Linked DNA regions of Homo sapiens: region 2 is linked to region 1. Evidence: fine-mapped expression QTL. A gene starts in region 1. The other region holds a variant in brackets. All regions are shown on one strand. Distances are between the middles of the regions.

Region 1 (4,386 bases):
CACTGCACTCCAGCCTGGGTGACAGGGCAAGACTCCATCTCAAAAAAAAAATTAAAAAATGTGACATTAACATTCATCCTTGAGGTGGGGTCTCTGTTCCCTCCCCTTGATCATGGGCAGACCTTTGCAATTGCCTCAACAGTAAGAATGTGGTGAAGGTGCCACTGCATGACTTCCAAGGACGGGTCCTGAGTGGCAATTCTCTTCAGTCTGGTGCTCTCCTACTCCCTCTGAGCTGCTATAGAGGATGTTCAGCTACCTTGAAGCTGCCATGTTGGAGAAACTTCATGGAAAGCCCACAAAGAGATAAAGGAGAGAACTGTCCAAGCAACTCCAGCTGTTCCGGCCCCAGCGGTTGAAGGCTTCCCAGTACTGACATCAGACATGTGAGTGAAGAAGCCTTCTAGGTGACATCAGGCCCAGCCACCATCTGACTATGACCTTATAACAGACCCCAGGCCAGACCGAACCAGCAGAGTCACTCTCAAATTCCTAATCCAAAGAAATTGTCATTTTAAGCTGCTGAATGTTAGGGTGATTTGTTATGGTGCAACAGGTAATTAATACATCAATGTGTGCTGTCCAGACTGTGAAACTCATCCTCTTTCCATAATTTCCACACACAAAAAGAAAACTTACTCACACAAGGCCTTTCTTGTGGTTAGCCCACAAAAGATGGAGAGATAAGTGATGTGAAACAAACAACTTAAAATTGAATTTGGACATCCCAGTTCTAAAAATCCTTTATAGGTTTACCCCACCCACCCCAAGCAATGCCCACCATCCCTCTCTTACATCCTCCTCCTCTTGCTCTCATCTTCCAACAAACTTCAAATTCTTCTTCACTCTGTTAGGCAGAGCAATTACATTCTCTCAAGCTCTTTCTCCCAAACTCAGCTCCAGGACAACCTTTCAAAATCCAGAGCCCTTTGCTAACCTGCCCAATGGAGTTGGACTTTTCTAGCTTCAACTAGGTTCATCATTTTAGCTGATCTGCCTGTGGCCAGCTTCCCCACATTGGATGCCAACCTAGTAAAACAGTCATCCATAAATCATAAGGAAAGCTAAAATGTATCAAGCACCTACTATGTGCTGGTTCGAGGTTAAATGCCTCGCATGAGTCATCTCATTCAATTTCCACAAAAACCCTTTAAGATAAGGACAATTTGCTGGGCACGGTGGCTCATGCCTGTAATCCCAACACTTTGGGAGGCTGAGGCAGGCAGATCACCTGAAGTCAGGAGTTCAAGAGCAGTCTGGCCAACATGGCGAAACCCCATCTCTACTAAAAATATAAAAATTAGCCAGGCATTGTGGCTCATGCCTGTAATTCCAGCTACTCGAGAGGCTGAGGCAGGGGAATCATTTGAACCCGCGAGGCGAGGTTGCAGTTAGCTGACATCGTGCCACTGCACTCCAGAGCCTTTTAAGACTCTGTCTTAAAAAAAAAATATATATATATATATATATGGACTATTAGTATCCCCATTTTACAGATGAGGAAAATGAGACTTCATAGAGTTTGGGGTGCCTGTGGTCATATCTATAATTGTGAAAAAGTCAGATTCCAAAGCATTTTACCAATATTGCCTAAGTGAGTGGGAGGGAAGGGAAGGCTCTCTGGAGTCGGGCTATGCTGGACAGCGGGGTTCGGAAACTCTGGTGAATAAAGTGGTAGTTGTTTCTATGAACATGGAGTGAGAAGGCCCAATCCTAAACACACCAGTGCTTAAGGCAGCTGCAGAGAATTAAAGGCAATAGAAAAAGGGGAGCTGGATGGCAGGAGCTTGGATGGGGAAGACTTCAAGGGCAGGTGAAGATGCCAACAGCTTCCTGCCTGGAGGACCGAAGAAGGGTTGGGCTTCACTGCAGACCTCCAGGAGACAGATTTGCTTGTTGGGACAGAGTAGGGAGGTGAAAGCGAGGTGAGGAAGTTCGGGGGTGGGGGAGGTGCACACAGCTCCACTAAAGAGCTGGAAGAGGCCGATGGAGTATTCATGAGACGGCTGATCCAGGAAGGACTGTGGCATATTAATATGGAAAAGGCCTGTTTGTTTGTGCTTGGAGAGGAAGGAGCCAGAGGAGAGGGGAGCAAGGTGGGCGGGAGCTGGGGAGAGCCTGCAGCAAGATCTGCAGAGCCCGAGGTGCTCTCGGCCTGGGCCCTGGAGAGGACGTAGGGTAAGTGATGGGGCACAGGCTGTGCGTCAGGGGGAAGGTGCTGGGGCCTGAAGGTCCCGAGGGGAACCTCAGACGGCCTTATGCCTTCTCACAAAGAAACTGGACCATCATCTCCGACCCGCACCCCGGTCGCCCCTCGAGGACAGAGGGTGGGCGCAGGAGGCTGGACCGAGCGGGGCGGAGCTGGATGCCTGGCGCCGGCCTCCCTCCCGGCAACCCCGCCGGTCCTCTCAGGTGACAGCTCACGCCGGCCCCCGCCCCGCCCCCCGCATATTCAGGAGCCCCAGCCCACCCTGCCCGCGAACAGCCAGCGCTGGAGGAGCGCCGGGAGACTCTGCCGTCGGTGCGTGCGCGGACACGCACCCGTCCCCCTTGGTCTCGCCGCCAGCCATGGCCGCCGCTACGGCCTCCCCCCGCAGCCTCCTTGTTCTCCTCCAGGTGGTAGTGCTCGCTCTGGCGCAGATTGTAAGTTTCGCAGCCCCTCCGCTGCCAGGGTCCAGGGTGCGGGGTCTGGAGTCCGGGATGGAGGAGCTCTGCCTGTGTCCCGCGCCTACTGACACCCCTAGCCCGAGAGGCCACCTGAGGACAGCGCCGCGGGCAGGTCCCCTCGGTGGGTGCATACATGGTGCCCATCGCGGCACCGTGAATGGAGGTGGCTGAGCCGGAGAGTCAAACGGGACCCGTCCCCAGACGCGCGGCCCGGCCCGGGACAGGCAGCGTGGGGCAGGAGCTGGCGCCCGGTCCTGGCAGCCCGGGGAGCCCAGGTGGCGGGGCATACAATGGTGCTCATTCACCCGCTGCGCAGCCTCCGCCCCCGCCGCCTCCCAGGGGGCGCCGGCTCCAACCAGACGCCGCTGTCGCCCCGAGGCGGCCTCTCGGCCCTGCCCGCCTACCCACGTCTCCCTTCCGAGGGCCGCCGGGGGCTGCGGGCGCGCGGGTAGGGCAGAGACTGGGCCCGGTCGGGTGCTGGGTGTGGTTTCGAGCTCGCCTGCGGGGCGCCAGCCTGGCACTTCGCGGCCTGGGGAGGTCGTGGGCACCGGGACCCCTGCCTGGGTCCGAGCTGGCCTCTTAAAAGGGCCGCCTTTTAAGATCTCTGATCTGTTCAGAGATGGGCAGCAGGATGGAGACTCTCCAGCTGTGAGCTCGCCTCATCTTGATATGACTTGTGACCTCCCTGAAACCTCACACCCACCCAGGGGCATTGAATTGCAGGCAAACGGGATCCAGAGAGAGGGTCTGCTTTCTGGGAGGTGCCGGCTCCTCCTGCTCCCCTGCAGCAGTCAGGGCTTAGCAGAGGGAGGACCGGGCAGCTGTGCTGCCGAAGGGGCGCTCCGAGTGGGAAGATAGTACCCGCTTCACCTCCCTACACCTCCTTTCTCTGCGCCTCCCCCACTTTCCCGTCGGGTTTTCCCGCACCATGGGGAGAGGAGGAGGCGCTGTCTCTGCCTGTCGTTCACGTAAGAACAACAACCCGAGCCACCGCTCACTGAGGGCCGGCAGCCTGCTAGGCACAACCTTACATTCCATCTGTGATTTATTTGAGCTGTCCACGTCTCCATCTATTCCCCACCGCGACCGCGCAAGGGCAAACTGGCACAGTGGAAGGAGTCGGGCAGATCCAGGGCGGACTCCTGGCGCCGCCGCCCACTCTCAGTGACCATGGACCCTTCACGTTCTGAGCCAGTTTCTTCGACTGCAAACTGGGGCCCGTAATAGCGCCCGCCTCCCGGTTCTGAGTATTCTGTAAGATAATGAATGCATGTAATGGCACACAGTGCCTGCTATACAGAAGATTCTCAATACGTGGGAGTTCGCGGAAGAGCTGCGCCCCTAGGACCCCGCTCCCAGGGTCGCTTGCAGCCCCGGGGACGCCCAGCTTCCTGCACTGTCTGAGGACTGCCCCACCCCGTGTGTGTTTTTCAGAGAGGTCCACCGGGAGAGCGGGGCCCCCCGGGTCCCCCGGGACCGCCGGGAGTGCCTGGATCCGACGGCATCGACGTAAGTCTCTAACCTGAGACCAGGGCGGGAGGGAGGCGGCAGACAAAGGAGAACTTTGTGAGCGCTGTGGTGGGGGTGGGGACTTCGGGGTGCCCGGAGATGTAGTGCCCCTCGTCGCCAATAGGCGGCGCCGGCCCGCACCACAAGGACGCCGTTTGTTCTGCAAAAACCTCAAACCAGCCCTGACATGCGGAGCCCGTTATAGCCGCC
Region 2 (4,386 bases), 330 kb after region 1:
GGTGACGGTCAAAGAATAGGATGTTTTTGTTTTTCTGAAACAGGGTCTTTCTCTGTCACCCAGGCGGGAGTGCAGTGGTGCAATCATGAGCTCAAGCAATCCTCCCGCATCAGCCTCCCGAGTAGCTGGGACCATAGGAATGCACCACCATGCCTGGCTAATTTTTGTATTTTTGTGGAGACAGAGTTTCACCATGTTGCCCAAGCTGGTCTCAGACTCCCGAGTTCAAGCAGTCCTCTTGCCTTGGCCTCCCAAAGTGCTGGAATTACAGTCATCAGCCACTGCGCCCATCGGCCTAGGAAGTTTTAAAATAATCAAAATACTAGCTTGAACTTTAAGATCAATGCAAATGTTTTCAAAATTAAAAATGTAGAGGTTTCATATAATTAATATGTGAATTTAGCAAGACTACTGGATATGAGATCAACATACAAATGTATTTCTTTATAATAGCAACAAAAAAATTAGAAAATGAAATTTACAAAAAATATCATTTACATCAGTATCAAAAATATCAAATACTTAGGAATAAATCTATTGAAAGATGTTTGAGATTTTAACCTGTGGCCAGGAGTGGTGGCTCATGCCTATAATCCCAGCACTTTGGGAGTCTGAGGTGGGAGAATTGCTTGAGCCCAGGAGTTGGAGACCAGCCTGGGCAACATAGCAAGACCCCACCTCTACAAAAAATGTAAAAAGAATCATAATAAATGTTCAAAGAAAAAAAAAAAGACCTCAACCTGAAACATTCTCTCTCTCTCTTTTTTTTTTTTTTTTGAGACAGAGTCTCATTCTGTTTTCAGGCTGGAGTGCAGTGGCGCGATCTCAGCTCACTGCAACCTCCGCCCTCCGAGTTCAAGCGATTCTCCTGCCTCAGCCTCCCGAGTAGCTGGGATTACAGGCGCCTGCCACTGCACCCGGCTAATTTTTTGTATTTTTAGTAGATATGGGGTTTCACCTTCTTGGCCAGGCTGGTCTCGAACTCCTGACCTTGTGATCCACCCGCCTTGGCCTCCCAAAGTGCTGGGATTACAGGTGTGAGCCACCGCGTCCGGCCCTCTCTCTTTTTTAAGAGACAGTGTCTCACTATTTTGGCCAGGCTGGTCTCAAACTCCCTGGCTCAGGTGATCTTCCTGCCTCAGCCTCCCAAGTAGCTGGGACTACGGGCATGCACCACCATGCCTGTTTCTATAAGACATTCTTGACATAAATTAAACACGACCTAAATAAATGGACAGATATTTCATGTTCATAAATTAGAAGACTCAATATTGTTAAGATGCCAGTTTTTTCCAATTAGTTCATAGATTCAGTGTAATTCCATCAAACTCCCAGCACATTCTGTGTGTGTATGTGTGTGTGTGTGTGTGTGCACACGCATACATTGACAAGCTGATTCCAAAATACATATGGACAATCCAAAAACCTTGAAGTTTGGCCAGGCATGGTGACTCATACCTGTAATCCCAGCACTTTGGGAGGCCAAGGCAGGCAGATCACCTGAGGTCAGGAGTTCAAGACCAACCTAGCCAATATGCTGAAACCCCCTATCTACTTAAAGTACAAAAAAATTAGCTGGGCATGATGGCGGGCATCTGTAGTCCCAACTACTTGGGAGGCTGAGGCAGGAGAATCGCTTGAACTTGGGAGGTGGAGGTTGCAATAAGCCAAGATCGCGCCATTGCACTTCAGCCTGGGAGAGAGTGAAACTCCATCTCAAAAACAAAACAAAACAAAACCTTGAAGTTGAAAGACTTACACTACCAAATTTCAACATTTACTATATAAATCTATAGTAATTAAGACAGGGGACTCTTGGAGTAAGAATAGCTGAGTAGATCACTTGAACAGGATAAAGAGTCCAGGGCCAGCCACGGTGGCTCATGCCTGTAATCCCAGCACTTTGGGACGCCGAGGCAGGTGGATCACCTGAAGTCAGGAGTTTGAGACCAGCCTGACCAATATGGTGAAACTCCGCCTCTACTAAAAATACAAAAATTAGCCGGGTGTGGTGGCGTGTGCCTGTAATCCCGGCTACTGGGGAGGCTGAGGCAGGAGAATTGCTTGAACCCGGGAGATGGAGGTTGCATTGAGCCGAGATCGCACCATTGCACTACAGCTTAGGCGACAGAGCAAGACTCTGTCTCAAAAAAAAAAAAAAAAAAAAAATAGAGTCCAAAAATGGACCTACACATATAGGTTCTTTTGATTTATGCCACTGTAATCAAGTAGGGGAGGGACGTCCTTTTAATAAAAGGTGCTGGAATAATTGGATAAGTACAGAGAAAAATAAACTCTGACCCTTAACTCACACTATACACAAAAATTAATTTGAGTGGATCATAGACCTAAATAAAAAAAGTATAAAACAACAATAAAACAACTTCTAAATAAAAACATAAGATAATTTTTTTGATATTGGG[GT/T]AAGTAAAGATTTCTTTTTTTTTTTTTTTTTTTGAGACGGAGTCTCACTCTGTTGTCAGGCTGGAGTACAGTGGTGCGATCTCCGCTCACTGCAACCTCCGCCTCCCAGGTTCAAACAATTCTCCTGCCTCAGCCTCCCGAGTTGCTGGGATTACAGGCATGCACCACCATACCCGGCTAATTTTTGTATTTTTAGTAGAGACGGGGTTTTACCATGTTAGCCAGGCTGGTCTCGAACTCCTGACCTCAGGTGATCCAGCCGCCTTGGCCTCCCCAAAGTGCTGGGATTACAGACGTGAGCCACCGCGCCCAGCCTCCTGAATGTAAATTATATCTCAATAAAACATTGAAAAGTAAGGAGTTTTTTGTTTATTTTTAATTACAAAAGCAAAATAAATGCTTGGTCTTTATAGACTACTAAAACAAGTATAACTAGAAGAATGACAGGCCTTGATCTCATTTCTAGGGACAAGATCTGTCTTCAAATTTATGCAGGTCTTCCATGGGACAAAGAGAAGGGTTGTATTGTGCAGATGCCAAAGAGAGGATCTAGAATCTGTGGGGACAAGCCACAAGGAGATAGCTTTCAAGATGAAGGAAACCTTTTTTTATGCCCTTCTCCACAAATGAAACAGGCTGCCTTGAGCCAAAATGAGCTGGCTGCCAAAGGCATGAGCAAGCAGAAGGCAGCCACAGGCATCCACGCATCAGGTGGGGTTGGATTAGACAGCCTAGGTCTCGTCCTCTGCCTCTGCTACTCCTTTAAGGAACAGCAAGGAGTAGAACAGCCCCTCCCACACTATGAGTTGTCCCTTTGTGTTAACAGAAATGGCCAAACCCATCTGCTGAAAGCCATAGATTGCTGGAGGACTAGCTCTGGAGTCTGAGCCCTGATGGCAGTGAAAAGGGAGGGAAGGACACAGGACAAAAGTCTTGGTTCTTAAGAAACGGACAGGCCAGGAGGTGGTTCACATCTGTAATCTCAGTACTTTGGGAGGCCAAGGAGGGAGGGTCACTTGAGCTCAGCAGTTAAGACCAACTTGGACAACATAGGGAGACCCTGTCTCTACAAAAAATAAAATAATTAGCTGGGCAAGGTGGCACGCCTCTAGTCCCAGCTACTCAGGATGCTGAGGCAGGAGGATTTGTTGAGCACAGGATTTCGAGGTTGCAGTGAGCCATGGTCACACTACTGTACTCCAGCTTAGGGGACAGAGTGAGACCTTGAAAAAAAAAAAGAGAGAAAGAAAAGAAAAAGGAAGAAAGGAAGAAGAAAGGGAGAAAGGGAGAAAGAACGAGAGAAAGGAAATAAAGAAAGAAAGAAAAGAAGGAACTGATAAATTTGGTGGGAAAAAATGGCCAGGCGCGGTGCCTCACACCTATAATCCCAGCACTTTGGGAGGCCGAGACAGGCAGATCACCTGAGGTCAGGAGTTCAAAACCAGTCTGACCAACAATGACGAAACCCCGTCTCTACGAAAAATACAAAAATTAGCCGGGCGTGATGGCGCACATCCCAGCTACTTGGGAGGCTGAGGCAGGAGAATTGCTTGAACCCAGGAGGCGGAGGTTGCAGTGAGCCGAGATCGTACCATTGCACTCCAGCCTGGGCAACAGAGTGAGACTCTGTCTCAAAAAAAAAAAAAAATTGGTTGGAAAACAAAAATAACTCTGAGCTAGGAGTGAGACAGATTCTCTCCTTCTGCCTGTGGCTGGCTGTGTGACCTTGTGCAACTTCCTTGTCCTCTCTGAGCCTGGAGTCTAGGCTGGGTAGTTCTTGGGCCTTCTCTGGTACTGACATCCTTTGAGGCCACACGGATGGCCACCTGGGCCAGATGGGAGTCACTGAAGGGGAAGGTACTGGGAGAGTGACTGCGGTGACTGTAGTGGCAGACAGGAGAAAGAGAGACTTTAGGACTCATTCCCCATCTCTTATGAAACACAGTAAGGGCAAACAGTCCT

Which allele goes with the higher level. Alleles are on the strand shown, and positions count from the first base shown. SD is a standard deviation of normalised expression in the study named.
For the expression in whole blood of the gene that starts at base 2,480 in region 1, GT is the high allele of the variant in region 2 and T is the other (moderate effect, 0.50 SD a copy in GTEx).

Evidence for each region. PIP is the estimated chance that this variant, and not a neighbour inherited with it, causes the effect.
Region 2: its variant is the best candidate, but not a certain one, in a credible set for the expression of COL9A2 in whole blood (GTEx, PIP 0.60).

What each region holds. Positions count from the first base shown.
Region 1 is chr1:40,315,380-40,319,765 of GRCh38, reverse strand. It overlaps COL9A2 (collagen type IX alpha 2 chain), which reads left to right and starts at 2,480. Exons shown (of 32, transcript NM_001852.4): 1 at 2,480-2,643; 2 at 4,102-4,176. The coding sequence starts at 2,569. RefSeq lists enhancers at 2,349-2,985, 2,986-3,622 and silencers at 2,796-3,305, 4,066-4,165, 4,176-4,235.
Region 2 is chr1:39,980,917-39,985,302 of GRCh38, reverse strand. No RefSeq gene overlaps it. Among named protein-coding and RNA genes, the nearest start is that of MFSD2A, 28 kb to the right of the region's middle. RefSeq lists an enhancer at 4,077-4,386. The variant GT/T (reference allele first, on the strand shown) is at 2,424.